Linked DNA regions of Homo sapiens. The protein of the gene in region 1 purifies or fractionates together with the protein of each later gene. This does not show direct contact. Each region holds a gene or a part of one and is shown on either strand. Other genes may lie near its edges.

Region 1 (16,014 bases):
GGCTGGGTTAGACAGCGTGACCAAGAGTAAACTTTGGATGGTCCAGGATAAAATTATAACATAGGTGGTTTGTCGTTGCTTGTGTTTATTTAATGTTCTCTCGCTTTCCTTGTCTAGCCAAGATCCCATGCTATGTTGACTTGTCATCTCCAGAAATGTCTTCACACTTGGAAGTTCCCTTAAAAAGCCCTTAAAATTTACCTCCTCTAGGACTTACTAGTTCCAATTTTTTCAATATTAATACACATATGAATCATCTGGGGATCTTGCCCAAAAGCGGACTTCTGTAGGTACAGGGTAAGGCCAAGGACTCTGCACTTCTTGTAATTATACTTCTGGGTGATACTGACGCTGCAGTTCCATGCACCACACTTTCCACAGTGAGGCACGCAAGAACATTTAGAACTGCACATTTTAAACAGAATTGTAATATGTTAGGTTGGTAATAGATGTTAGAAGAGTTAGGCAAACAAGATTTAATTTTGAATGCTTGGAAACTAAGACCTTGAACAAATATGAGAAAGAAATGAGAATACATTTGGAAAACTCTTTTTGAATCTTTCAAATTTCTTTGGGTTATGTTCTTTCTTCCTTCAAAAGTAAATCTTTCCTTTCTCAGGAGTTTTCCTCACAAATTTAACAGGAAATAAAAACCTTTCAAGAAAGTCTCTTTGCCTCTACACATCTGAATATTCTCTGTAGAAAACGATGCAACCTGTTTTTTTGCAAAATTCCGTTATTTAAAAAAAAAAGTCTGAATAACTCTACGTTACCTGAATTCAATTATATAATCTATTGGAAACATAAAGTGGTCCTCTTTTGAAGAATTATTATATTTACTAATTTATTCAGATTTCTTCAATTGAATGAATCAATAGTATTCTCTGCTCATATGGTATTACTGAAACAACTACATAGAAAAAAATAGCAGGGCCGGGTGCGGTGGCTCAGGCCTGTAATCCTAGCACTTCTGGAGGGTGAGGCGGGCGGATCACTTGAGGTTAGGGGTTCGAGACCGGCCTGGCCAACATGGTAAAACCCTGTCTCTACTAAAAATTACAAAAATTTAGCTAGCCATGGTGGCGGGCACCTGTAATCCCAGCTACTCTGGAGGCTGATGCAGGAGAATTGCTTAAACCTGGGAGGCTGATGTTGCAGTGGGCCAAGATCCTGCCATTGCACTCCCACCTGGGTGACAGAGCCAGACTCCATCTTAAAAAAAAAAAAAAAAAAAGATGTTTCCCTTTGGGAGTAAATGGCCATTGATGTTACATTAGAAATATAATAGCTCCAAAGAATGTTCACCTTTGCCACTCTTTGGAGCGTGTGTGATATCTCCAATAGAAATTAAAGAACTGGCTTCACTTTTTTGTTTGTTTGGGTTTTTCTTGAGAAAGGGTTTTGCTCTGTCCCCCAAGCTGGAGTGCAGTGGAACGAACAGGGCTCACTGCAGCCTTGACCTCCTAAGTTCAAGCGATCCTCCTGCCTTAACTTTCTGAGTAACTAGGACTACAGGAATACACCACCTATAGTCGGGTTTTCTAAACACTGCAGGTATGTAAGTATATACTGGTCAATTAAAAAAATTTTTTTTCCTTGTAGAGACCAGGTCTTGACATGCTGCCCTGGTTGGTCTCCAATTCCTGGCCTCAAGCATTCCTCCCACTTTGGCCTCCCAAAGTGCTAGGATTACAGGCATGAGCCACCACGCCTGGCCTGAGAACTTGCTTTATTTTAGCCAAAATTATTTTATCACTTCTTTCCCTTCTCACAGGTTCTAGCTCTTATCTTCTTGTACCCCTTCCCTGCCGCAATATATTATCTTACGCAAAGCAAGTAAACTTTCAGTTTCCTATTCCCATTACTCTATTTAGCAAACCTAGGACCTTCCTTAGGACCCAGCATCCTCACAAGGCAGGGTGGGGTTGTAAATAGCCCCCAGTTTTTGCTGTGTCATAAATTATTTTATTCCTTGTTACATTAGCAAAACAGACATTTCAATGTGAATCCTCCCCGTTGATAAGCTTAAATTAAGAATATAAAGTACAACACTGTAAAACCTTTGCCCTGATGTTAAAAGCCTTTCAGAAGGTTTTTGAAATCCCTATTTCCCACTTGATCTGGGTTCCTCTTCACCCTGTGAGACACTCCAGCTGCATTGAACTGCCAGTGTTCCCAATCAGCTGTGCTCTGTTAAACATCCACATTTTAGAAAAGCATGCTTAATTTTTCACTAAATGATAATTATTTCCCCAGCATTTAATGTATTACTCATTCTCTCCACATCAAGGACCTTGTAAACAAATTCAGAGCATTATCTGTAGGTTCTTTTAAGATCATCTTTAAATAATTTTCAAGGTGGGATGCGGGGAGTGTCAGCAAGGCTTCTCTCATTAAAAAACCTTAAAATCTCCATTTGTCCCTGTCAAAGCCTGAATTGGAAGCAGGGTCAGCATTAGGGTGAGACAAGAGATGCAGGGTTGTGCAAGTGCAGGGTTGTTAAAAAGGAAAAAAATTGAAATTGCTTAAGAAAGTCATTGCTTTTGAGGGGTAATAGCAGGTGTACTTCCCTAAGTACAATAGCAAATCTTTCAAAGAAAATTTCTATCCTATTTTTCCTTGAAAATAACCATATTGAATACAGTTATAGAACTGTATTTTATTTATTTGTATGTGCTACAATTTGGTGCATGCAGCAACCACAGTTCCTTAAATTTTTGGCCATTGTTTTCAGGACTCAAAATAGCTCAGCATTCCATTCTATAAGGCCCATGTTTCTTTCCCATGGTACAGTATGAGTACTTTTTAAAGTAGGTGAACATAAAATAAAAGTTTGCTAGTTGTAGTGCATATGAACAAAATAACCACATGGGTTTTATGGCACATGTTCTAAAAAGATAAAGATATAATGGAGAGATATCTCATTCAAACAGGTTAACATTATAAACAGTGCAAGTGAGGGCCATAGAAGCAAAGTAACATAGTAAAATTAACAAATATAAAAACCTAAGCTGAAAGAGGAGGTATGGAGATTTTTTAAATAGTCCTGAAAGATAATAGAGATTGCTCATAATTTGAAGTAGACATAATTCAGGATTTGAAATAAATCATCTAAAATTTTAAACATGTCATATTGTTTAAATCATTCTCTGTCCTATAGGAATGACGGTAATAACTTGACTATGTACTTTGTAGTGTCCTGAAAATAGTATGCTCAGTTAAGTTTATAAATTGCAAAATAACCATCTCTTTAAAGTGGAACAGCATTCATCAGGGAATTGTTCACTTATGAAGAGGTCATCCAGACCTGGAGACAAGCTACTTTTTTGGTGAATAGAATATATTGCCATTGCTACTATTTATCCTCCTTGTTTTCAGGAATGCTTCACTACTTATTCTCATTATGATAAACTCTATCTCAGGCTTTTAGGTATCATTTAAAACCCACTTGTGTGGGGAGGTTCTATCACTCTCCAAATAACTTTGCAGGGCCCAAGGCTATAAATATGAATATATTTATACAAACCTATTTTGTTATAATAGGGCCTTGGGCCTACTATACAAACCTATTTTGTTTAAGGCTATAAATATGAATGTATTTATATAAACCTGTTTTGTTATAATAGAGCCCAAGGCCCTATTATAACAAAATAGGTATGTTATAAAACTATTATAACAAAATAGGTATGTCATAGAACTATTATAACAAAATAGGTTTGTATAAATATATTACAGGACAATTATTTACCATTATTACAGGAAAATTATTTCTCATCTGTATATCCAATAATTACACAAAATGGTTGTGTTTTGAAGTTGGAGAACAACCACATTCTAAAAAGGCACAGAGCAAAAAAGAAAATAAGCTCATATTTTACTATACGAAAAAGGTAAACAAAGAAGTGGTTGAAAAATCCATGTTCTATTTAAAGTCCTCTCATTCCAGAATTATAGAATATAATTGATTTTATGTGATTATCAAGTATAAGCTCTTGGAAATTTTATGATGTAAAAATAGAGGCAAAGCTGTACTCATTAATAAAATAAAACATTTGATTAGCATATATTGATAAAATAAAATATTCATGATTGTAGTTTATTTTTTGTTGAATTTATTAATAATCTTTATATATATTTATATATGTATGGCTTTGAGCAAAGACAAAAGAAATACTCTAACTCATCCCTGATCATACAGTTGTTGTAAGAATCAGCTATTCTATTATCTTTCCAGCAGCAGAAAGACCAATGAATAATACATTTCTTTCTGTACAGATTAAAACTCCATACATACGGGCTTCACTATGTACAGAGAAAAGAGGTCACTTTTCAACTAGCAATGGACCTTTATATTACAGGAATGTGAGTCATTTTTTTTTCTTAATCTAAGTATATATACATTCATACATATATGTATATAATTTACCCTGTACCTTTTTATTAGTTTAATATATAAACCTTAGTTTTTTTGTCCATTCTATTACAAAGTGAATAAAAATTGTATGGTTGCACTGAAAGACCATGCATTTCAATTTTGCTTATGTTTCCCAATAGTGCTCAAAATAAAAAACCAAAAATTTATATATATAAAAATATTTCACTACCAAATCCATTAATCCTATCAAATGTAAACCTTTAATAATTTAAAGGACCAATACGTAATCTTAATAAATTGAAGTTAATTCTCATATTTTAATAAAATAAAGGAGTTTTGTACTGATATGTAAATGGTCTTGCAGCTTTCCCATAGGTTCTAGGTAGACTGAACAATCCCTTTCTTACAACAGTATTCCTGACATGCCATCATATGTCACCAGCATATTGATGATTACATTACATCGACTAGCAGTTAATTACTTCCACACCAGTTGGGATTTGTTTGAAATTAAACATAACAACTCATTTTGGTATTATAGGTATTATATCCACAAAAGGCATAACAGGCAGCAAGGATCCACTTTAGAGTTTCTGCTTTTGTTTTTGTTTTCTGTCCTCAAGTCTATCTGCAGGCCCTGTCCCACATAATGTGTGATCTCTGTATGTTCTTAAATGTATTGCCAGTGCCAGAGATACTGAAGACCTCCACTTTAAGTCATGCTCTTAACTTGGGTTATTTACCGCAGCCAGTTGTTAGGAATCTTTCAATTGTGTTCCAGTCATACTCCACATGTGTGGGATGCATTAGGCACAAATGATTACTAAGGGAGTTCTTTGAGAAGAAGCAGGTGCTCACAGATCATGTAAAGAGTTAAGAAAACAGACAGACAATGCTCATAGACGTTCAACTTTACCCCTGCTTTCTGTCACCATGTCTGTACTATTTTCAACACATTAAAAATGACAAACCTCCTATCTAAGGGCTACGTTAGTCACCACATGCCTTAAAGTTTACTAACCATTTAGTTACAATATACATAGAGCAAAATGTGTGTTCCCAAACAGACGTGATGCTGTATTGAATTTATTTCTTTAAATTAATACCATAGTAAATTACCAGCTACAGTGAAGACACAGACAACACTTAACTCCAAATCAAGCTGTGGTTTACAAATAATTATTTAAATAATAATAGCAATAATATTAAATAAAAGTGAAAACCTCACTTCTAGACTTAAGTCAGAGATCCAAGTCAGCCTTATAGGAATTATAAGATAGGCAATTAATGAATTGTTATGCTTTTCTAGAAACGAGAAATACTGTAAGCCTTTCTCTACAATGACTGATTTGAACCTATTTTTTTTTCCCCAGAAGCATGCAGGGACTATTTTCAGATGCTTGATTATGGCAAGAAGAAAGAAAAGTAACGATTTTTGGTGTAATACAAGCAATTTGTAGATTCGAGCATACAATTTTGCATAAAACATTGCAGGTTAAAATAATATTGTAGGTTTCAAGCCATTGCATTACAATTGAATAATTCTCACAATCAGGTTTTGTAAAATTTAAAACTCTAAGTTTTGAAGTGAAGCAATAAAACTAAATTCTTAAACAATGACTTTTACCTTCATACAACACAGAATAGCTATTTTTATTTGGGTTGAAAAAGTTATTTACAACTAACATTGATCGAGTCTTGGTAAAAGTCCGATAACACATGAAGACAAATATTAATTTTCCCTCAGCTTTCTGAAAGATCAATGAACATGTTTGAGGTTAGTGATATTCTTAACAAACAGTGGCAATGCTAGTCTCCTACGGTGGCCAAGCAAGTAGTGCATTCTTTAACCTAATTTGAAATTGAAAGCACCGAAATACAATTTAGATCTATAAAATGGGATTTGTTATTTAATTCTCCACCATTAATGATTAACAATTTAGATGCAGAGACACAGCTAATGAAAGAAAGTTTTGATTGGTGCTATTTACTAGTTCATTTGAGTTGCCTTTTTAAAATCAGTTTTGTTTCCATTGAATCCAAGAACTCTTCATAAAATAGAGAAATATACATATCAAAGGACTTAAGTAAAAGTAGGTTAGAAATAAATAATCTTACAACGACATTTTAAATCCTTTAATGATTTAAAGAAAGGAAGACATATAACACTGAATGCTAAACAGGTCTTTTGACCCTCTCTTGGGAATTTAGATATATATTTTATAGTATATGTATATATATTTTTACATTTCACGTGTAGGCCACAGCTGTCTAAAATATCTCTTCATAGTAGGCTAGAGGGATCTATCAGGAGATAGAATAAAATAAGATCTGAGTATAGTCTCAGTTTATGAGAGTATTTCTTTCTGCTTTGACAATCAGCAGGGATCATAAATTTGAAGCAAATCGTGGCTTTTCTGCGTCTGGGTCTGTGTTTAAGACTGAGGAAGATTCTCTTGGAAGAGCAGCTGCTGGTGGAGGGGGTGCTGGAGGGACTCCTCGGTTCGGGGGGATGGCTCCCGACGACATCTGTCGGAAGAGGGTGACGCGCTGCGGGACAGTGCTCCTGCCCCCTGCCTGAAGGCCCGTTCCGGGGACCGCCGTCACGGGTTGAGGGATGGAGGCCAGGGACTCGCCCACAGTGGGATGAGGTCTGGAAATCAGAGTGGACACCTCATGGGGCAGCGAGGGCTGCGAGGCGGAGAGTGGCCTGACTTCCCGGGTCAGGTTGGTGTTGTGAAGCGCCTGCGTGCTCTTGTGCACTTCATTTTTCGGCGTGGAGCTGCCAGGTGTCTGTGGCTGCGGGGACGGCTGCTGTGGCTGAGTCTGCGGCGGCTGGGACTGCTGTACCTGCTGCTGCGGCTGCTGTTGCATGAGTGACAGCTGGGAGGCGGTGGGGGAGGCATAGTGGAAAGTTCGAGCGGCCAGAGGGCTCTGTACAGGAGGGCTGCAGACCGCGGTGGTGTAGGAGCAGGGTGACAGGATGGCTGATGGCTGGGGGGTCTGTGTGCTGGGACTGGGGGAGTGCAGGTTGCTGTGAGACAGGCTGGTCGCTGTGTACACCGGTGGAGATTGTGTCCTCATGCGGGAGGTCGGGGTCGTAGTAGACGATGTGGAATTCAGGGTTGTCATTTGAGGATAATTGATGGGAGCGATTGCCTGCACCATCTCCCTGTCATGTTTCACAATCTGCTTGAGGATTTCGTTCTCCTGATTGTTGAAAACACCAGTGTTCAGATCCTTCTGGAACTTTTGCAGAAGAATTGAATTTTTCTTTCCTGTCAGCAAAAGAAAGATAGGCACTTAGAAAGCCTACCAATGACTGATGACAACGCCAAGTGAGAGTGGCTCCTGCAAACAGAAGTATAGCTGTGCTTCACAGGAGAGGCTTAAAAAGCCAGTCACTCACCTTTACACACCAAATACCAATGTGGCTCCTACCTTTCACACTTCCTGTATTTCTCTGGGAACTCTTACCTTCTACTCAAGTTGAACGGCCTGTAATATGGCAAAGAGCCACTTTACAGAAGAAATGGAGATATTTAACATGAGGGCCACCTTGAAGAATGGGGGAAGAAAGGGCTTTTGGAATAGGATGGGCTTGGAATCAACATTTGATTTTAAAGTTACTTTTTCAAGAAAGGACCATGGAGACATAAGCGAGAACATTTGAACACGTACTATGTGATAAGCACTCTACAAAAGACCTTAGGTAGATGATTTTATGTAACCCGCGACCCTGTCAGATAGGTGTGTTCATAATCTCATTTTACCTGAAAGGAGATCAGGACATGAGAAGACTAAGAACAGTGCCCAGGAAAACAAAAAAAAAACATGGTTGGCAGGTAACAGGGCTGAGAAAGACCATATACACAAAAAAGTGATTGCACATCCTTGCTATGGAAAATGAACCAACTGCCCCTGTCTCATCTGTGTGCTTGCTAGAAACTCAGCCTCCTGGGCCTGACCCCACTTGCTGAATCAGATGTTGCATTTTACTAAGATCCCCAGGTGATTCCCAAATGCAAATCTGAGGAGGACTGTATCAGGTTTTGCTTTTGACCCAGTGTCTTACACCAGTCATTCTCAGTCCTAGTTGGATATTTTTCTTATCTCTGGAGCTTTAAAAAATACTAACATCCACTTGTTCCCTACCAATTAAATCTAAATAATCATACATGGGCTCTGAATTTCAGTAGTTTAAAAGCAAATTTCCCCAGGAAATTCTTTTTTTAAAATTTATTATTTATTTATTTTATTTTATTTATTTATTTTTTTGAGACGGAGTCTCGCTCTGATGCCCAGGCTGGAGTTGCAGTGGCACCATCCCAGCTCACTGCAAGCTCTGCCTCCCGGGTTCATGCCATTCTCCTGCCTTAGCCTCCTGAGTAGCTGGGACTACAGGTGCCCGCCACCGTGCCCGGTTAATTTTTTGTATTTTTAGTAGAGATGGGGTTTCACCATGTTAGCCAGGATGGTCTCCATCTCATGACCTTGTGATCCACCCGCCTCGGCCTCCCAAAGTGCTGGGATTACAGGCGTGAGCCACCACGCCCAGCTTCCCCAGGGAATTCTTAAATGCAGCCAAGACTGAGACTGACTTTATGATCTTTCCTCTTCTGAATGGTTGTTGTGAGGACCAAGGGCATAGTGCATTGCAGGCTCTCAGCTCCCTCTAAGACCTCAATAAATTTTACCTTTTCCTGCCATCATCTTCTGAGTGGTTTGCAATACAGCTTTTCCTGCCATCATCTTCTGAGTGGTTTGCAATACTAGACAGTCTCTGGCATAATAATTATTAGAATGAATAGTGGATTGGTGAAAGAAGGGGAAAGTAGTGACTTTTCTATGGCATCATTGATACACTAATCTCCAAGTGAATATGGTAACTGAAAAGTGAATCAATTTGCGATATTGCTAAATAAACTAACACATTAAAGGTAACAAAATATATTTTTGAAGATAAATATGTATTGTAATTTCATTGACTGCTAGGAATGCAATCATTTTAAATGACTGCCAAAATAGTTACCTCTCCCTACTTACAGACTGTCCTAATTTCCCAAAGAACAAAAACTCCTACATTAGTAATAAATATAAATGCTTATTTAGCATATTTGCTTAACTAACTGCAGCATACATCTATATGCAATGGCCACAAAACCGAGAAGCATAATGTTTCTTTCTGATTATGTGAACAGTCAAAATATCTTAATCTAAGTATCTTTAACCTTGGGAAAAATAATGTAACTTTTAATACACTCTTACTATGTTATAAAGATCAAAAATTCAATTGCTTAGTGCCTATTAGAAATTGCATTGCCTGTATTGATTACGAACCATTTCATGTAAATATTGTTATAAAAATTAACTGCAGGCTGGGCGCGGTGGCTCATGCCTGTAATTCCAGCACTGTGGGAGGCTGAGATGGGTGGATCATGAGGTTAGGAGGTCAAGACCGTCCTGGCCAACATGGTGAAACCCCGTCTCTACTAAAAATACAAAATATTAGCAGGGCGTGGCAGTGCACACCTGCAGTCCCAGCTACTCAGGAGGCTGAGGCAGGAGAATTGCTTGAACCTGGGAGGCGGAGGCTGCAGTGAGCCGAGATCACACCACTGCACTCCAGCCTGGGCAACAGAGCAAGATTCTGTCTTAAAAAAAAAAAAAAATTAACTGCAATAAGTTAGATGAAAGTGAAGCTGTATCAGATTAACAGAAATTATCTAGTGAAATATCCTGATTTTAATGTTTTCTCTAAGGATGTCTAGCTGGTTTAGGAAGAAACTCATTGCTTAGAAATTAGTCTCTGTCTCTAACATAAACACTCACACACTACAAAGAGGGAAGTTATTTTCCAATTAAGTAAGGATGCCTTCAGGAGTGCCTACTTCTTTTGTGGGTATTGTCTCCCTGAATGAGTAGGTCTTGTTAAATCTCTAAGATTTCAATATGAATTTCTAATACGTTTGTTATATCTAATGATGATGTCCAAATACTGCCTTTACTTCTAATCTATTTTCAGATCTCTATGCAGTCTGCTGTCCTACTAATATAGAGAGAAAGGAAGATGTGAATGTGAAGTGCAGAAAAAAAGCCAACATAACAATTTATCAATCTGAAGTCCTTACCTTTAATAAGAATGAAGCAGTTGAGGTACCTCCTTGTTTATCACAAGTGATCCCAGCCCCATCTTTTTTGAGTTCATTTATTCCTTCCTCCCTTCCTACCTCTCTTCAACAAATATTCATTGTATACTAGGTACTGTGAATGTAATGGTGAATTAAACATGAGCTCTACATTGACAAATTTAGCATCTCTAGAGCCAGTAATAAAAGCAGTGCTGTGATGGGGGAGCTTCAGAGGCTATAGGAGAATGCATCCAAGGAACTGGGCTTAGTAGGGAGTGGGAGGTCAGAGAAGGTTTCTAGAGGGAGGTGATATCTAAACAGAGAGAGGAAGGTTGAGCAGAGTCGAGCTGACCAAAAAAAAGTAGAGAAGGGGAGGGTGGCAAAGAGGGTTTAGGTGTGGAAAATGAATGCATACTACCTTACAACATAATGTTCCAGGATATCTAGGAATGTTAACAGCAAGCCAATCCAAGCTAACTTTACTATGGCAATTATGCAAATCTTCAAACTAGCATAACTAATAAGGCCTAATGGTTGTATATATATATTTTTTTATTTGGTAGCAGAAAAGACTTTAAAATATGTTGATGTTTGCGAGGTAAAGCATCTATGTAGGGCATTACTATCAAGGCTTTTTTTTTCTGCTTGAGTCTATATTACAAACATTTTATTATGTCTCTGCTGAGATTAATTTAAATGTGCAAATTTTCAATTCCTAATATAAAGATAAAATGTAAAGTTGATCCAAAAATACAAAAAAAGTGATAAAACTTAGTTTGTAATATAGACTCATATATCATATTTTTAGTTCTATTTCAATGCTATCTAGAATTTTTATCATTGCTTTTTACCTGAAGATTCAAATTGTTTTGGCATCAGTCGGGAAATCAGTTTGTTTAGCTAGCAAAAATAGACATTAATAAATAAACCCAGAATACTTAGAAGAGATAGATAGGGACCCAGATCTCTCAAGAAATACGGCTACAGCTAATTGCTATTTCTACACAAATTAACAAGCAAGCTATAAACTGGCATGTGGGATTTTTTTTTTTTTTTTTTCTCTGAGACAAGGTTTCACTCTCTCTCCCAGACGGGAGTGCAGTGGTACCATCTTGGTTCAGGGCAACCTCCACCTCCCAGGCTCAAGAGATTCTCCTGCCTCAGCCTTCTGAGTGGCTGGGATTACAGGTGCACGCCACCACACCCGGCTAATTTTTGTATTTTTAGTAGAGACAGGGTTTCACCATGTTGGCCAGGCTGGTCTCGAACTCCTGACCTCAAATGATCCACCTGCCTTGGCCTCCCAAAGTGATGGGATTACAGGCATGAGTCACCACTCCCCACTGCATTTGGGACTTATAATTGCAAACCTGTATTATGCCAGGAGATTAAATTTTATATAAAGAAGGTAGAAAACTAGAGTACCTATTCGATCTAGTCGGTCAATGGCAACTGTCTCAAAGGCTCTCCTCATCATTGGATATTCCTCCAGGACCTCGTTGAAATTGTCCACGGAAAGTGAGTAAAGACGACAATATGTATCAGCTCGAACACTGGCAGTACGACGTCCTTTGGTCAGCAGGCAAATCTCTATAAAAACAAACAACAAAGAAGAATGACTTGTTTGATCATTTTCTTTTAAAAGCCATTAAGGCTTCCCACAACTTAAAACAAGTCTCATGGTGTGAAAAAACAATTATTAGCAGCATTTTCTATTATATCAGCAAATTCCTTCTGACAAAAATATCCGACTGCCAATACTCAATCTTAAAATAATGTTTTTTTGTTTTGTTTTGTTTTAAAAAAAAAAAAAACAGTTGAGAAGGCCAGGCGCAGTGGCTCACGCCTGTAATCCCAGCACTTTGGGAGGCCGAGGTGGGTGAATCACGAGGTCAAGAGATCGAGACCATCCTGGCTAACATGGTGAAACCCCGTCTCTACTAAAAATACAAAAATTAGCTGGGCTTGGTGGCAGGCGCCTGTAGTCCCAGCTACTCGGGAGGCTGAGGCAGGAGAATCACTTGAACCTGGGAGGCAGAGGTTGCAGTGAGCCGAGATTGTGCCACTGCACTCCAGCCTGGCGACAGAGTGAGACTCCGTCTCAAAAAAGACAACAACAACAACAAAAAAACATGGTTGAGACTTTTGGTTTAAATGCAAGGCTGAAACACAGTATACCTTATCCTTCCCACTCCAATCCTCTGAAATAAGAAATAAAGAAAAAAAACAAAAACAAAAGAGATGCAGAAAATGGAATAAAATGTCCACAAAGGAGTTGAAAAAAGAAAGGGGTGATGATTAGAAAGACGATTTTATGAATTCTGGAAGGCAGAAAGCAGATGGTATAATCTAGGCAGAAGCCAAAATGAGTCCAAACATTGGCTTAGAAAGTCCTATGATCAAACAAAGCTAGACCAGAGGTTTAGATATAGGCATGTCTAATGTAGTTTGTATATTCCCAATGAGATCAGTATGAAGAAAGTGATATTCCACATGTACAGAGGGACTCTCTATTTAAATGACTTTTAAGGGTAATTCCTTACTGAAATTTAGATTTCCAAAATATGGTAAACAAACATTTGCAAATTTGGATTTCATTATTGGCCAGCTGAAGCTATATAGCTATTAAGAGATAATTTTCCATTTTGTTTTCCAAAAATTATGATTTGAACTACTGTAGGCTTTGATTATTTTTAATTTGGAAATAATTTAAACATTTAGCTTCAAAATAACAAATTTGAAAAGAGAAATGATAGAAGTATTTCTAAAATTTAGTCACCTAACAAAAGGAAATAAATATAATATTAAATGTCTAAATTCACACTCGAGCTAATTTAAAGAAGTTCTATTTATGTTGACAAACACTGTGAATAAATCACGCTGTAGACACATGTACGTTCATTTGAATACAATCTGGTAAGAACAATGTCACATATATGCAAACTCTGAGAATACTAGAGAAGGACACGTGAACCAGTCTGGGAAGATAGAGAGGATTTTAGGAAATGTCACCTAAACCATCAATTATGCTGTTGTTCTTGTCAAGATTGAAAAGTAATGTTGTAAACCTGCTAAATAATATTGTGGGGTCTGTGTGTTTGTCTGAATGTTTTTGTGCCTGAATATGTGTGTGTGTCTGTGTAGGAAAATAAATCTATTTTGGTCAATTTTAAAGCAAATTACCATACCATGGAATTTACCTGCTACTGTAATATAAACAAGGTAATTAAAAGAAGCATTTTGAATACTACTCCAAAATTAAATTCCTGTGTCACTAAAGTACTAATGCCATATAATTATAATTTATGATTGCCACATTATGGCAAACAAAGCTAAGTGTTGGTTTCAAATCTTGTGTGGAATGCTAAATGAAAGAAGACAGACATGAGAAGCCACATACTGTGTGATTCCATTTATGTAAAATATTCAGAAAATACAAATCTGCAGAGACAGATAACAGATTAGTGGTTGCCTGAGGCAAAAGATGGAAAAGGGAATTAACAGTAAGTGGGCACAGGAATCTTATTTGGGTGATGAAAATGTTCTAAAACCTGATTTGTGGTGATGGTTTCATCACTTGGTAAATTTACTTAAAGATATTTGAATTCTACACTTTAATGAATTATATGTGTAAAATACGTTGCATTAAAGCTATACAAAGTGAAAAGAAAATTAGTTTTGTTTTTATTTTTTATCTTTATACTTATTATATTTTCATTTGAATTTATTTTTTCTGAACTCTTTCTCTTTACTCTGGAAACATTGTTTTGTCTCTTTTTCTAGGTCTTTCTCTTGTGTGTTGAATGTTTTCTTTTGGTAATCTATTGATGTCCAATCACATTTAAAGATAAAAAACTCTGGTAATGTTGCAGAATTTGTTAATTTAAAGTTTTTCATTAGGGTAAATAGGCGGGGAGCTTGTCCTCATATTTCTCTAAATACCAGAATGAGGAGGGCTTTACTCTAGGCCACTGACATCTCTCTTAACTGTCCTAGTTCTCCCTCTCATTCAATTGCTTTATGAACGAACCACTGACATTTCCCCCCACTATCCTCAGGTACATGGTTGGCTACAGACTATTCCGCAACATGGAGGGAGGGATGTCTCATACCTACCATCAGCATAAGTCACCCGCTTTCTGTTCTGTCTTCTGTGGTCCTGTTGTCTCTTAACTAAGAGCCTGTTTAGTATTCTTCCAGGATACCTGCTGTCTCCTTGGCTCCCGTTCTTTGTACGTATATTCCATGTTCCCTCTACTTTCCCTTCAAGGTTCATCAGTAACCACCAGCATACATTTAAATGCAGGCTACAGAATACCTGAATAGCACTGGTTTATCCAATACATTAATGTCATTATATTACAAAACAAAATTTGGGAGTAGGCAAGGCCAGCATTTGTTCAGCACTTCAATGATGCCAAGGCACTGTGCCCATAATACTTTTGTTTTCCTTGGCCTTCTTCTCATGATCACAAGTTGATAGCAACAACTACACACATTCATATACTCACACAACAGCATCCAAAGTTTGGGGAGACAGCAAAAGACTTTCTTCCTATATTTCTTTCTTTTTATTGTGAAGGCAAAAGTTGTACTACAGGTCCCTAACTTACTTTCTCTGGCATTTTATTATCAGAACTGCATCATGTGGCCAGCCTTAGCTGCAAGAAAGGATTTAAAACGGAATATTTGGTAAATCGGAATAAGGTAACTACTGTTAGTGATTGAGTTAGGTAAATACTGGTTTAATCCCTGAAGTAGTATATGATGCCAGCCATACAAGATTTTATTAACAAGAAAGGGCCATGGTTGCTGGCTATGGAACCAATGTTATCTGGCACTTCACTCATATCAAAAGTATTTTCTGTCTTCTAGAAACATGTCCCTTTGTCTCGTCTCCTGGTTGCTCCCAAATACAAATTCATGCATCAGGTTACTTTGTGGTTGAGTTTATATTTTATTCTTTTACTATTATTAATTGGGTCTCTGTAGAGGGATGAGATAAAGGCATGTCCTGGGAATCATCTTAAATAAGAAATGTATTTGTCTTATGCTTAGAAATTACTTGGAATTATTTTTACAAAGAGCATGTGTTTATATATTATTTTTAATTTTTAAAAACAAGTTTAAAAATTAGAAATAAGAATATAGCTATTCTCAGTATGCACAGTCATTTTACAGATATGTTAAAAACAGATTTACTGGAGCATAGATATAAGTTTAGTCAAATTTTTTCTAAACCATTATTTACAAATGATTTTCTGGCCTCTGTCATCTGATGATCTCATATAATGAATATATAACATATGTAGCATATGTTACATAGTATAGGTACACATTACTAAGTAATCATGGCTTGAATCAGTTAAATATTACCATTGGTAAGAAAATCTTCAAGGAGGATGCTTTTAAAATACTGTTTAAAGCCTACATGAAGAAATGTGTACGTGTGTTATGAGCTCTTAACCCAAAGGTTTTCTATGTTGCCATCTCAGTAAAACTTAGATG
Region 2 (16,014 bases), on another chromosome or scaffold:
TTTCTTTACCTCCTTTTTCCACGGCCCTTCGGTAGTGGCAGGTGAACTTCACCTGGAGAGGGGACGAAGGGACAGTCCGCCCGAAGTAGGTTTGGGCTGTCTCTTACCATTACTAGTAAAGGCCAGTAATGACTATGTGGATGTTAGTGAAAAACCAATTGTTGGCATTTAAATTGTATCAGCGTCTTTGTGAGGACTCCTGCTGCGTGAAACTAAACATGAGAAATTTGCCCCCGGGTCCCTAATAAAATTCTCCTTTATTTTACAAAATCTCCCTTTAATCCTAGGAAAATTCATGAAGTGGGGCTGTTACTGTGTTGACTTTTAGTAGGTTACGATCATATTTACTTAAATATGAGTGTAATTGTCTCATAAGTTAAAAAAGCCCACAGCCTCTTACCCAGACCCTTTTTAGGCTGCAAAAATTAGAAATTAACTGTAAAGTTATGTTGCTTATCTTATTTTTTGTTGTTGTTAGCATTTTTCAAGACCTATTATCAGTAGGGTAAATTTAGTTTTAACTTAAAAAAATTGGTGTGCCACGTATGAATAATGGGAGTTTTTATATGGACGAATGAAAATTATTGCTGAAAAACAGGCCACTAATATACTGTAAAAAATTCACAATATAATGGTAATCTAGACATCATATTATAATTTATTATATTCTGAATATAATCTATCTTCAGAATATAATGGTAATCTTACTTTCTGGAAATGTTCTGATAAAAACAGACACGTCAGAGGTTGATTTCTAAATGACTTGCCTTGCCTTGAAATAGGAACAGTGAACTGATTCCCTAAAAGGATTAAAGGTTTTGGTTTTCGTATTGGTATTGTTTTCCTGAAGCCATTGCAAACAATCTTGGTCTTTAAAGAAAATGTTTGGAATGCACAGATGAAAATTGCAGTAGCAAATTATTATGTTAGCTCTTTGTTTATCTAACATTCGTTGTACCTAAAATAGATTGAGAGTCAAGTATCCAGTCACAACAGTCTCAAATATATGTAGTCTTAATGCTATCACATATATATATATACACACATACATTTAAAAATCCTATTAACAAATATAACTGCTCCCATTTAGAAAGGAGAGAGTGAGCGAGCATTGGATGATGTCACTTCAGACAGCTTTTCTCTGTTCCGCTGTAGTGGAGATTTGAAACTCTGGACAAACATCAGAATTACATTTGCTGAGCACCATTAAATCTGACTTCTGACAATTTTTGTCATTTCTGAAATAGTGACTCTGCCAGATTCTCAAAATTGCTCACGAGTTCACCATATTTAAATTTTGTGGTCATTGCAGCTATAAGTAATCATTGGTAGCTCCGTGCTTTGTTTTCCATTTTTTATTTTCTCAGATCCTCCATATCCAAAGAAAAATACTACTGGGACTAAAGAGTGAGGGCCAGAGTCGTCTTTGTAAACCACCCAGCAGTCACGGATGAGTTGGTAGATAAAAAATGACTAATTCTTTTTCCAGCTATAAGCTGAAAGACTTCTTTAGGGGATGACAAAATATTTCTCTACATTAAAAGTAGAATCCTTATAATCAGTCAGTCGCTTAACGGGAAAAGGAAAACCTTAATGACAGACTTTTGTGAAAGAAGTTCTGATCTCTTCATTTCAGAGCTTGGGCAGTGATTACATAATGTTCTCTGGCTCCTTGCGGGTGGCTCTGTGGCAGCCACCTTGTCTGACTGCCTGGACTGGGAACAGAATCAGCCTTAATGTGTTTTGCCGAGGGCATTTCCTTTGCCTGGTTGGTTGAAAGAATCAAACCAAGCTAGTTAATGGCCTAGAACTCCTGAACAAGAATTTTTCTTATCTTTAACCCTCCCAGATCACAATATCCCGCAGACCATTGTTTTCCAAAATGTGCTCTTAGGGACCACCTGCTCTGGTTTTAAAATGCAGATTCTGTTACCTTATGCCACAAGAATTCTGATCACTCTAATCAGCTGGCTTATATAACATGCATTCCAGTACTTTTACATTGCTCCTGTCTTTCTATTTTTTTCTTCTGCAGGGTGAGAACTCTCCAGAAACAGTTCTATTACCCCATTTTTCAGTCTTATCTTTTCAGCAGCTATTAATCCTAACAGCCATTTCTATTGATAGTTTTATCTCAACTAGCTTGCTGTTTATTCTTTTCCTGCATTTTCCCCTTAATTGTTTTCACCTTCCTCCTCTCCTAGTAGGCATAAAGCTCTTAGAGCTATAGAGACAGCAAAGATGGGATGTATTTTGGGTAGCAGAAGTGAATTTGAAATTATATACATGTTTTATGCTATAGGCAACAATTCATATATTTTTGTGGCAATACTTTGAACCTTGGGAAATTGTTTTATATTTGCAGATAACAAAATACTTGATGTACTGTATCAGAAGTCCCAGTTTTGTCATTACATAACTACTTGATCTTGGGCTTAAATTTTTAGGTTTTCTGTCTGTAAGATGAGAGGGTAGGACCAGATGGCCTGTAAGGATTCTTCCAGTTTCAAAAATCTATGAAGATGCTAGGATTACATAATTATATTTGGCAGACATTAAATTGTTTTAATTGTGAAAAATAGCAACTACCTCCTCACTCTAACCAGACTATTCCCTTTCTTCCTTTTGGTGTTTAACATGTTACATTCTTCCCTCATATCAAGTAGCAGTGGGTCAAAGAGAAAGGAGATGGGTAGAGGTATTATGTAATAAAGCACATTGTCACTTCTGTTTACCTCACAGTGAACAGTGAAGTTGTCAGCACCTCTTTGTTGCAATGCCTGCTTATGAAACCCCTTTTCCAGTATCAGGCCACAGAATAGCTTAAGCTTGCTTCATATGTATCCCTGCAAGTTGTTTTGCTGACAAATAGTGTTGCTTTCTCTCTACCCCACTTTGTAGATATTCTTTAAAAGGAGAGAGAAAAGTAAAGTGCTGATATAGGAGAGAAAATAGTGGCAGGGTGAGTGCAAGAGAGAAAGTGAAGGCCGACTCACCCAGTAAAAGTTTTGAGTTACCCATGACAAATGGCTGTTTAGACCCTGGTTCTTTACCCTTTCTGGTTTTCCCTATTCACACAATCAAGACTGAAGGTTTTGATAATTAAGCTTTTCGTTTGTGGTGGTGGTTTTGTTTGTGTGTTTTTTGGGGAGTGAGGAGAAGGGACATAAAATGCATGGCTGGCCATTTACTATAATGTTGATATAATGCTCTCAAGGGATTGAGAGCTTGGTTCTCTTTAACCAAAGTGCATCTTATTACCTAGTTATGTAATTCCGTGTTTGCAGATATTGGCCAGTGAAACTTTTACATTACATTTTGGTTCTCCATGAGGATATTAATATCTGAATTGAGGGTTTAGTGCTGGGAAATAAATGAATTGCGTCTGTGCATCCCAAATGCCTTGGCAGGACCTCCTGTGTACACATCCCTGACAGGACACTGCTGTAGCATATTGGGTGTGCAAGGTTGCATATTGCACAGGATTGTAGTCTTCCCAACTAGACAGAAATGAGTATAATATACTTGGCATAATAAGCCTGAGTGACCTCATGGAATTCAACTCTGACATATAAAAGGTTTATGTGACTGGAAGTATTTTTTAAGCAGAAATATCTCAAATACGTTTATGTTACAGGCCTATTTAAATTAATTTAGAATTTGACTTACAAGGTGTTTATTATGCATTTCCAAATCTTGACTTGTGGGTAAATGTACATAGAAACATGTACTAAGTAGTCATTGGGGGAGATTTTATTTCTCTTAGTTTTATCATACCATAACTTAAATGTCTGGCGTGTCTATTCAAAACCCACATTCTTTTTCCAAAAGGAAATACTACTTCCTGAATTCCTAGATTTAACTAAAGCTTCTTGTACTGCTTTGTATGTCAGTGTCAGTAAAGGAAGACTCAGAAAAAAAAATCTTTTTGGGTTACCAGTAAAATCATCCTCTTAAATTTTTTGGCAAACGTGGCATTTTATTAGAGCTTAAAGACTAAAGGAAAAGAAATTAAGGACTTTAGACCGTTACTGAAACCTGTTAAAGGATTTGACAATTCTGAATTTCTGAATGAGGTGATTTTTGCCTAAATGATATACAAAATATTAACACTGGAGCTGTGCTTCACAATGAAAGTCTTTTCCAAAGTAGACAGCTGAAAGTTGAAAATTGGAAATTATAACACTAAGGACATCATTTTTGAAAAATTTCCACTTAATTGTGATTATCCCTTTTAATTAGTACTTACAACACATATTTTTAATAGCTTTAAGGAGATCTACAATACAACCTCATTTTATAAGTGTTATCAACAATTGAATGAACAAGATTATTTTAAATTATTGTGCATTCTTTAAGCTCTTTTATTAGAGGAAAAAACTTTTTGCAGTATTTCTATAATTGTACTTGGGGAAAAATCAGGTAAGAATGAACGTAGACTTTTTATTCTTAAACAGAAAAGTTTGAATCTTGAGTTGTAGCGATGAGGAAATTACCCTTGTTTTTATGGTAGAGATATATTCTGATTTTTCACTTAATGTTTTATCTTTCAGTACTGATAAGTTACCAGCAATAATTTTATGATGTTGAACTAACATAAGTACGACAAAAGAGAAATAAAATTTTCACAGCTTATATATAATACCACTTCTGAGTTAAATATCCTGGACGTTTATTTGGGAAAGTGATACTAAGTATGGTGGTGGATATTTTGTACTTTGAAATTTTGAAATATTTGCATAAACCGTTTTTGGCATAGTTGAATTTCATACTTTAAAAAACAAGTTTGGTGGATTTTTGTGTTTATTTGAATGATTAACTTTAAGGCTCAAATTATTATTTTTTTTTAGTGAAAGCAAGTTTATTAAGAAAGTAAAGGAGTAAAAGAATGGTACTGCATAGGCAGAGCAGTCAAGATGCAAATTATTTTTAAAAGTTGTTTGTTTTCAGAATGAGTTAAGGATAAAGCTTAAGTCTTAACTATTTTCTCTGCTTATATATGATTATAATGTTTTAAATTATTTTATATAAAAATTTTAAAAGATGCATTGTTAATTAAATCACTTGAATCTCTGCAGTATCCAAAAGCAGACCCATTTTTATGCTGGGGAAAATGATTTTTGAGAGCTAGTCTATTTAGCTTTGCATTATCAGTTTTCAGTTTTTCATTTTATATAACTTTATCCAATTCATTTTTTCCTCCCTTTAATACTGGGACATAAAATTTCCTGTCTATCAGTTTTACCTAGGGCCGTGCTAGGCATCTTAAGCAGAGAAGGCAAATTCAGTGTCTCCTGGGCTGAAGCAGATGAATTGTTGAAGCTGGACTTTTTGCATATGAAACAAGTAAGAATATTCTTGGTTTTCCTGCCAGGCGCAAGCCACCGCCTGTAATCCCAGCACTTTGGGATACTGAGGCTGGTGGATCACCTGAGGTCAGGAGTTCGAGATAAGCCTGGCCAACATAGCAAAATTCTGTCTCTACTAAAACAAAAATTAGCCAGGCGTGGTGGCATGCGCCTGTGATTCCAGCTTTTTGGGAGGCTGAAACAGGAGAATCGCTTGAATCTGGGAGATGGAGGCTGCAGTGAGCTGAGATTGCGCCATTGCATTCCAGCCTGGGTGACACAGCAAGACTCTGTCTCAAAAAACAAAAGAATATTCTTGGTTTTCATTTTTAAAACATGAGTCCAGTGTTGCTGGATCCTCCAATTTTCCAAGGCAAGCTAAAAATCAGTACTATTTTAATTTATACAACAATTTTAGCCCAAAACACTGAAGGCATGGGCCACTATTTTATAATCTCCTTTAAAGTGGAACGCAGGACTGGCAAATTATAGCCTATATCTTCAAATACTGCCTGCCTGCTGTTTTTCTGTAGCCCATGGGGTAAGAATGATTTTTATATTTTTTAATGGTTGGGAAAAATATCAAAGGAATGATATTTCTCCTTTTTGCCCAGTACCCTCACTGAATTGTTGGGGAGGGGCTGCTGCTATTCAGGAAGCAGCAGCACTAGCAGAATTCAGGTTATACAGTCATTCTTCAAAAGATTTAAATTTTGTCTCTATCACTTACTTTGATACCTTGGGTAAGTTACTTCAGTTCTCTGTGTCTCAGTTTTTTCATCAGCAAAATAGGGAAAATAATAATCTGTAACAATAATAGCACAATGCCTGGAACAGAGTTAAAAATTAGTAGATTTCAGCTACTGTTATTTTTATTTATTTTTTTGTTGAGAAACAGTCTTGCCCTGTCACCCAGGCAGGAATGCAATGGTGTGATCTTGGCTCACTGCAGCCTCTGCCTCCCGGGTTCAAGTGATTCTCCTGCCTCAGCTTCCCAAGTAGCTGGGATTACAGGCACCTGCCACTATGCCTGGCTAATTTTTTGTATTTTTAATAGAGACGGGGTTTCACCATGTTGGCCCGGTTGGTCTCGAACTCCTGACCTCTTGATCAACTACTATTATTAAAGTCCCAGTTTTCTCTCCTCATCATTCTTGTTTTGGAATATTACTTCTTATATTACTGTTACTGCTTATCCCTGCCTCACATGTCAGTAACAATATTGTTGGTACTTTTTTCACAGCAAGGCATTCTGGTAAAGATTGATTCCTGCAACATAAAAACCCTTAGGATTCAGTAGCTGTACCGATTTCATTTAAAAATGTTATTTATTCATTACATAATAGGTGTTAATAGAATTTGAGTTTTACCAAAGTAATACTAAATTTTAATATGCAAATATATAGTCCTGCCCTATGTCAGAGGAACATACTTTAAAAAAATTGTAGCATCATTGTATACAGTAAAATGCATAGATCATGAGTGTACAGTTAGATAATTTTAAGTCTGTATACCTGGGCTCTAACTCCCAATCAAGCTGAACATTGTTATCAACTCAGAAAGTTATCTTGTGTCCTTTTACAATTTGTTCTCCTTAGAGGTAACCACTATTCTAATTTTTCTCCCCATAGATTAATTCAAAGCAATCATATTCACTTATTAGCTTCTTATGGTCTTTTATTACCATGGTGACCACTAGACCCTCTTCTGCCTTTGTGCAATTTAGAAAAAGATCCCCTCTCTGGTGGTTTGGAGAATAGAGCATCAGTTGGTTTCTAGACCTACTGATTCCCTTGGCCTGGCATCCTTGTACTGGAAACAACCTGCCCAACCATACATGGCGATCTTAACTCCATGTTTCTCACTTTTTGCCCCAGTAGGGCGTGGTGCGGCGGGCAGCAGAGTCTTGCTCTGTCACCCAGGCTCGAGTGCAGTGGCATGATCTCGGCTCACTGCAACTTCCGCCTCCCAGGTTCAAGTGATTCTCCTGCCTCAGTCTCCCGAGTAGCTGGGATTACAGGTGCCCACCACCACTCCCAGCTAATTTTTGTATTTTTAGTAAAGACGGGGTTTCACCATGTTGACCAGGCTGGTCTGGAACTCCTGACCTCAAGTGGTCCACCCACCTCGGCCTCTCAAAGTGCTGGGATTACAGGCTGAGCCATAGCACCTGGCCCTCCATGTTTCTCTTTTAACTCCCTATTTCTCTAAATCAGTGGTTGTTAAACATTTTGCTCTGAGAACTCCTTTATAGTCTTAAAAATTGTTCAGGATCCCAAAGAGCTTTTGCTTTATGTAGGTTATATATATTTCCAAATAACCAAAAAGATTTAAGAAGACTAACAGTAACATTGTTTTACATTCGGCAGTGCCCTTTATTGAATAGCTTAATAGAAGATAGCCGGATTTTCCTATCAAATTCTTCATTCAGTCTGTTGTGATATGGTGCTTAGCTTCTGGAAAATTGCACTGTACAATTTTTATTGTATATAAACATAGCGAGAGAATGAAAGTGAAAATGACAGTTTTATTATTTAAACTAACACAGTCTTAGTTTTATTATGAAAAAAGTTTGACCTTGTGGACCCCCTGAACGGGTGTGTTCCTGGACCACATTTGCAGAACATCTATTCTAAATATTTGCTTATACTGCTGTTTCATGGTTTGTTTTCATTTGTTTTATTTTTTGCAGTTTTAGATAATACCTATTGATAATAGCTACATGGAAGGTGAATATTTAGCTTTTTCTGAATATTTACACACTGCACACATGATCTCTTCTCCTGTTCTAGCAATTTCTGGTTAAATTGATATTTAGTGTTTTTTATTATAATTAACATAAACATTAGTTACATTTGAGTATTGTAGTATACTTTTATTTTACTTCCATTCTTGTATAACAACTTTTTATTTTCCCTGAATTTGATCATGCTTCTTGGGGCAGGAGAGAGGGTTCCTTAATTTTCTACATACTTACTGCTCATTCATTCCTCAGACTCTGACAGCAGTATAATTGTCTTTCTGTGTCTTCAAACTCACCAGGTAACTTACCAAGTTTCTTTCTTTCTTTCTTTCTTTTTTTTTTGATGATTTCTTGCCCATCATTCATTAGTTTTCTATTCCAGACTGGTTGCACTCATACAAATGTCCTGAGAGTCATAATCATCTTGGAAGAATTGCCTTTGTCTTTATCACATGCTAGATCTACAGTTTCATAAATCTGAAGAAAAAGATAAATTTTTAAAAAATCTTACGTGTCTCAGAATCGTTATTCCATCCTCATATTTGATAATTTATCTGGGTGTAAAATTCTAGGTTAGCATTCATTTTTCTCTCAGCATTTTGATGGCATTGCTCCATTATCTTCTAATGTGATGCCATTCTGATTCCTTGTTTGTACATGACTTTTTTTCCCCCTTTGGTTGTCTACAGGCTGGTGATTTTCTCCTTATATCTTTTTTTTCTTTTTTCTTTTATGCTTTCAGCTTTCAACATTTTTATTGACATGACTTGTCTGCTGTCATTCATTTTCATTCTTTGTGGCTTAAGGTTTATTTGTTTTATCCCTTTACTGTCGCTTTATTGAGCTTTCAGGAGGAAGTAAACAAACATTTCACTGGAAATCAATATTAGAACTTCAACTTAGCTATCTTGATAGCTTTTTAAAGATTTGTTAGAATATTTCCTTTTACATTAAAAATTGACTTAATGATAATTAATAATGGATAATAATGGAAACCATCTGAATTACCATTAGCATTAATTTAAGATCAGACAGGATGGTCTAGAAAGATTGATGAGGCATCCTCTGATCGTCCTCTTCAAAGTTCCAAGATTGTCTCCTTCATGAGGAATTTTAGAGGCAACTCATTACCAACTTTGTAGTTTTGCTTTGTGGCATTATTACTCCAACTAACTTAAAAAAGTTTCATTTTTGTAATTAATATGTTGCCTTTTTCATTTATGTTGAAATGCTTATGTGCTGGTGTGCCTTAGTTATTTTCCTTTATTGTTTTAAGTTCACATGTATGTGATTTTAATACTTTTTGCTACCATCCTTTGTAATTTGTTGAACAACAGAGAAAAGCCCTATTAATTTTGACAACATATTAAAAGTAATATTACTGCCTTTGTAATAGTTCACACATGTAGGGCTTATTAGTGTGGGTCAATTTAAGTAAACCTTTTACAACAGTAGAAATTCATGCTGTGGGCCGGGCATGGTGGCTCACGTCTATAATTCCAGCACTTTGGGAGGCTGAGGCAGGAGAATTGCTTAAGAACAGCCTGGGCAACATAGTGAGACCTCCACCTCCACAAAAAAATTTAAAAATTAGCCATGTGTGGTGGTGCACATCTGTAGTCCCAGCTACTTGGGAGGCTGAGGTAGGAGGATCACTTGAGCCCAGGAGGTTGAGGCTGCAGTGAGCCGTGATTGCACTATTACACTCTAGCTGGGGTGACAGAGCAAGACCCTGTCTCAAAAAAAAATTAATTAATTAATTAAAAAGTATATATATTTAATAAAAAAAATCAGGCTATGTGGTTTCTGGTTAGGAGTATTATCCAAGTGTGACATGGTGTCTGTCACTTCATTTATTACCAGAGTTAATTTGCCTAAGCTGTTTGAGTCAGTTTCCTTAAGCAGCACATAGAGTCAAGATAATATTCAGACTTTATTAGCTCTGTGATATTACATAAATAATTTTACTTCTCTGGGCCTCATATTTATCTGTAAATGATGTATTGGATTAAACTACCTTCATGGTACTTCCATAGGGGATCTATTCCTGAGAACTGTATTGATCATATATTCAGAAGCACCTACTGGATAGCCAGGTACTATACCTGGAATTTAAAAATTGCTAAACACCCCAGCTTTCAAGAAACATTGTGTAGCTAGGGAAGACCAACCAGTTATGAAAACCAAATTAGTCACAACCTATTTAAATGCCTATATTTATTCTTAGAAGAAAATCACACCGCTGGATCCAAGAGCCAGGAGAGTGGTGGAGTAAGGGAGCAACATTCAATATTACCACTGAGTTTTTACTGCACATGCCTTCAGTGCTAGGCAGTAGGGCTCATAGGATCAAAGCACTTCTCACATGTAGAGAGACAAGTATTCCTGATCTTTAGAACTATTTTTTCTAGTAGTCATCTTGTTTAACATTTAGAATTCCAAACTTGGACAGAAATTTTCTCTTAACTATCCACATTTAAATTATGTTATACTTTCAGATGAATATACTTGGAATTTTCTTACCAAAAGTTCTGCATTTTAAATGAAATTACCCATATTTGAATATGAATGTATAATTATCTTGTTGAAAGACATTAAAAGCCAGCATTTATATAAAAGTGAGTCTAGAACAGGTTTGTTCTTTTTTTTCTTTAATCTTGACACTGAATTTTATAATGAATTATATAAAATTAGAGCATTCGAATTGTGCTTAAAATTTTTAGGGAAACTGTTGATACTGGTAACAATGTGGAGTTTCATTCAGCCAGTGGTAGAGAAAATCTGTCTTCACCAATTTATCCCGGTAAAGGATATTATTAACAATAAATAACATTTGTATATAATGCTGTTGTTTATGAACATTTACCTGTTTGTGCTAATCTAGGCTTTTTGCTATCCCAGTGCCTTTTACTCACCAATATGAATTTGAAATTCTGCTAAAATTTCACTTTATAAAACGGATACAAGGCCGGGTGCAGTGGCTCATGCCTGTAATCCCAGCACTTTGGGAGGCTGAGGCGGGCGGATCACTTGAGGTCAGGAGTTCGAGACCAGCCTGGCCAACATGGTGAGATCCCGTCTCTACTGAAAATACAACAGTTAGCTGGGCCTGGTGGCATGTGCCTGTAATCCCAGCTACTCGGAAGGCTGAGGCAGGAAAATTGCTTGAACCTGGGAGGCAGAGGTTGCAGTGAGCTGAGATGGCACCACTGTACTCCAGCCTGGGTGACAGTGAGACTCCGTCTCAAAAAAAAAAAAAATGGTTACAGTTCTGTTCAGCATAGATTGAATAAACACAGTAGAGAAATGATGGTCATTTTTTAAACTATGTAGAAAAAAGAATAAGAGATTTTAAACTTATTATTCATATAAATATTCTACTTTGCACTAATCTGCTTGTCTCTGATACAAAAGTGATTAAGTTATGATCCAGTTCTAAATGCATTGCGTTGATAATCTGCCTGTTGTTTTTTTTTTCAAGTTCCAACCTATTTTTATTTAACCTAAAACTGTGCTAGTTTTATGTGATGCTAATAATTTGGTTCAAGTTTCATAGATTTCTGACAGTAGTTACATTATTATGCAGTGGCTTTAAATTTTAATTTTTTTTCATTCTATATTACTGCTTTTATATTGCAGGATTTTTTAACAAAAAAGTATGTTAATGAGGAATCTGTTTTATAGACCTTGTAGTTTAAGTTCTTTTTTTTTTTTTTCGAGACAGAGTCTTTCTCTGTCGCCCAGGCTGGAGTGCAGTGGCATGCAGTCTCTGCTCACTGCAAGCTCTGTCTCCTGGGTTCACGCCATTCTCCTGCCTCAGCCTCCCGAGTAGCTGGGACTACAGGCGCCTGCCACCACCCCTGGCTAATTTTTTGTATTTTTAGTAGAGATGGGTTTTCACCGTGTTAGCCAGGATGGTCTCAATCTCCTGACCTCATGATCCACCCGCTTCAGCCTCCCAAAGTGTTGGGATTACAGGCGTGAGCCACTGCACCCAGCCTAAGTTCTCCTTTTTAAAGCCTTCCCCTGTTCGAATTCCAGTACAGAATAATTCCATAACTTCATTAATCATAACATGTTGGTATAATTCCCAATTTTGACTGTAAATACTAATTTAACTTAACTAAATGAAATCTAATATTGACAGAAGGTCAGAGGCCTTTGTGAAATAGAGTACTCACAAATATAGAGAGCAGCTTTCTGTGTAATGCCAGACACTAGGAAAACTGCTTCCTTTTTATGTGTCAAACATTTATCACGTGGACTTCCTCACTACAGTCAAGACAGCAGCAATCTCATTTCAAAAGGCAAATTAAAAAGCAAAATTCAGATACTGATTTAAGTGAATAAGAAAAAATGCAAACAAATGTTTGATGTCCTCATGGATTGTTAACTTCTCAGCCAGAGATTTTGTGTCTTACATATACCAGATATATTTGATAATCAGTGCAGTTAATAATTAGCGGATCACCACATCATGTCCTTTTGATGCTTTCATACTGAGGAAAGAAACCTAATGTAGAAACCAAATGAATATGTCCCAGTGTACAAAACCCAGAACTCAAAACCCTTTATATGGAGAAGTAGTTTAGATTGATTATTTAATATAAATAGGATCCCAGAAGGAAGTATACCCAGTCATAGCTGGAAGTGAAGATCAGAATTCAAAACCTATATTTGGTCTCCAAGTAGAGAGAAAAAAAAGATAAGAGAGAAGTTGAAAATACTAGAACATTGATGGGAAATTTAGTTTTTGGTTTTGTTTTGTTTGAGATGGAGTCTCGCTCTGTCACCAGGCTGGAGTGCAGTGGCATCATCTCAGCTCACTGCAACCTCCGCCTCCTGGGTTCAAGCGATTCTCGTGCCTCAGCCTCCCGAGTAGCTGGGATTACAGGCACAAGCCACCACACCCAGCTAATTTGTGTATTTTTATTAGAGACGGGTTTCACCATGTTGGCCAGGATGGTCTCGATCTCCTGACCTTGTGATCCACCTGCCTCAGTCTCCCAAAGTGCTGGGATTACAGGCATGAGCCACTGCGCTTGGCCGGGAAATCCTAGTTTTTAAAAGTGCGAATCACTAAATTTTTTTAATGTCCCAGCTGTTTTGCTGTTTTGGAAAGCATTATACCAGCCAAACAACACATCTGTGGGCAGCTGTCCTATGCACCCCCATATTTACCTATGTTACCCAGCATGTTTCTGAGTAACTAAATCTATTTCTGAAGGTTCAGTATATTTTGAGTTGAATAAATGGTATTGGTTCTTTTTTTATGTATATTTTTTGATAATATAATTTTTAACACTAAGAGTTGTTTTCCTCATTAGTATCCTGATTCCTAAAGCACTGTTGTTGAATTTGATACAGAAATGTAAAATATTGTATCTGAGCACTTTGAAAAATGTCTCTTAAAAGCTTCAGTCATCCTGTAAAAAAATGTTCAAATAGAGGTGCCTAAGAATATAAAGTGATTTGTTAGTTTGAGAACAGAATTGAAATTATACGAAAAAATATACATTTTATTTAAGTTTATAATTGAAGCACATTTACTAAAGCCTCTTAGGGAACTGATTGAGGTGACCTAATTCTTAACTAATTGAAGTACCAGAAAAGAATTTGTCCTTCATTTTGTTTAAGATATAACTTCTTAAGTAATTTTATTTTATTATCCAATGCTGAGATTTATTTGAACTAGAAATTAGTACTGTGCCAGAGTGAGAGTGCTCCTGAAAGCCAGGTCTTTCTATATCTACTGTTGCAAGGTGGTTATAGGCCAGCGTGTGCTGCAGTGTCTTCTTTTATAAACTGGGCTAAAAAACTTGAGGTTTAGGAAGATTAATTAGATGATAATTGTACAGCACCTGTGGGAGTTCTGTTACCTTTTAAGCGCGATGCAAGGTGCACCAGTTTTATTGCAGTAGAAGGGAGGAAACGTCTCGGTGACTTGTTTTAAATTAGGCCAGGTAAAGTTATATACCCCAGTGAAGAAGCTCTTACTTGTTAGTGGTTTTTTTCTTTTTAAAATTATGAAATATTTCAGGCACACAAAATACAGAGAACCTGAAGTATATTTTATATGTTTTGAAAGTCTTAAATATCACATACTTACATAATACTTAAATATGTGGTGTTATATGTTGTGCAACGTGCCTTTTTTGGGGGGGTCAGCAATTATGTTTCTTAGGCTTATCTAAAAATCAGCAGTGCTAGTACTTTTTTTTTTTAATTTTTATTTTTTAAAAGAGATAGGATCTTGCTATGTTGCCCAGGCTGGTCTGGAACTCCTGGGCTTGAGCAGTCCTCCTGCCTCTGCCTCCCAAAGTGCTGAGAGTATAGGCACGAGCCACTGGGCCTGGTCACTAGTTGAATCTTTTTAGCAGTATTATATGAATCTATAATAATTTATTTCGAATTTTTTTTTTGTTGCTGACAATGTAGTGTATATTCTTGGACATATTTCCTTACATATTCAAAAGTTTATCCAGGATTTATACCTAGGAATGGAATTGCTAGGTCATAAGATAAATGTATGTCAGAGGTGTCCAATCTTTTGGCTTTCCTGGGCCACATTGGAAGAAGAATTGTCTTGAGCCACACATAAAATACACTAACAATAGTTGATGAGCTGGGAAAAAAAATCACAAAAAAAGTCATAATGGTTTAAGAAAGTTTGTGAATTTCTGTTGGGCCACATTCAAATCTGTCCTGGGCCACACACGGCCATGGGCCACGGGTTGGACAAGCTTGATGTATGTTTATTAGATACTGCCAAATTGTTCTCCAAAGCAGTTGGACCTAAATTTCTGTCAATTGAGTGGAAGTTCCCAAGTTCCCTTTGTTACACACTTTTTCTAGCACTTGGTGTTAGACATTCTTTTATTGCCTGGTAGACAGGAACTCAGTTGATTTCTTCCCCACCCTCCATATCAAAATATAATTTACATGGAATAAAACTCCTGCATTTTATGTGTACAATTTGATTGAATTTATGGTAATTGTATAAAGTCATATATCCACCCCAACAATCAAGATACGAAAGATTTCCATCACCCAAGTAATTAGTTTCCTCATGCCTGTTTGTAGTCAGTCTCCCCTTCCCCAGCCAGTAAGCTGCTTTTGTCATTATGGTTTTGCCTTTTCTAGAATTTGATAAAGATGTGATCATATAGTGAGTAATCTTTTGTGCTAAACTTCTTTCACTTAGCATGTTTTTGAGATTCAGTCCCGCTGGTGTGTGTTATTTTGTTCCTTTTTATTGCTATCTATTTCATGGTATGAATATACCACAATTTATTCATCAGTTGATGGATATTTGGGTTGTTTCTAGTTTGGGGCTAGTATATAAATAATGATGCTGTAAATATTCATGACTAAATTTTTGACTCAGTTGATTTTTGATTATTGATCTTTAAAAATCTTGCCACCCTCTAATTAGTTTAAATAATTTGACTTTCTTAGATTTTCTACATAGACAGATTATTTACAAATAATAACAGTTTTTTCTTTTTTCTAATACCTAATCTTTTTATTGTTTGTGTACTTGCTGTAGGATCTCTAGTACAGTGTTCAGTGGAAACAGTCAATTTTAGTGGGCATTCCTGTATTCCTCAATTAAAAGGGTATGGTGAAGTATTAAAGTTTCACCATTAAGTATGAGGCTTTCTATAGGCTTTTGATTATTAGCCTTACTGATGTTAAAGAATTTCACCCTTTGCTAGTTTGCAAAGATTTTTTTTTAATGGAAGTTGAATTTTGTCAAATACATTTTCTGTATATTTTGAGATAGTCATGGGGTTTTTCTTCTTAAATCTCACGTGGCTTTTTCTTTAAGTAAAGCTTACTCTTTGAAGTGTTAAAATTTAATCACTCTAAAAACACTTTTAATAAATCTCTTAGATTAAAAACTTTTAAATCTTGAGCATA

What was found.
Region 2: the proteins of HCN1 (region 1) and ITM2B purify together in Homo sapiens (co-immunoprecipitation; 2 studies listed by IntAct). This does not show direct contact.

Annotation. Positions count from the first base shown.
Region 1 is NC_000005.10:45,255,158-45,271,171, forward strand, and holds part of HCN1 (potassium/sodium hyperpolarization-activated cyclic nucleotide-gated channel 1), read right to left. Parts: intron 12,097-16,014; coding exon 11,932-12,096; intron 7,654-11,931; coding exon 6,764-7,653; 3' UTR 1-6,763. UniProt on the Homo sapiens protein: Hyperpolarization-activated ion channel that are permeable to sodium and potassium ions. Displays lower selectivity for K(+) over Na(+) ions.
Region 2 is NC_000013.11:48,233,987-48,250,000, forward strand, and holds part of ITM2B (integral membrane protein 2B), read left to right. Parts: intron 1-16,014. UniProt on the Homo sapiens protein: Plays a regulatory role in the processing of the amyloid-beta A4 precursor protein (APP) and acts as an inhibitor of the amyloid-beta peptide aggregation and fibrils deposition. Plays a role in the induction of neurite outgrowth.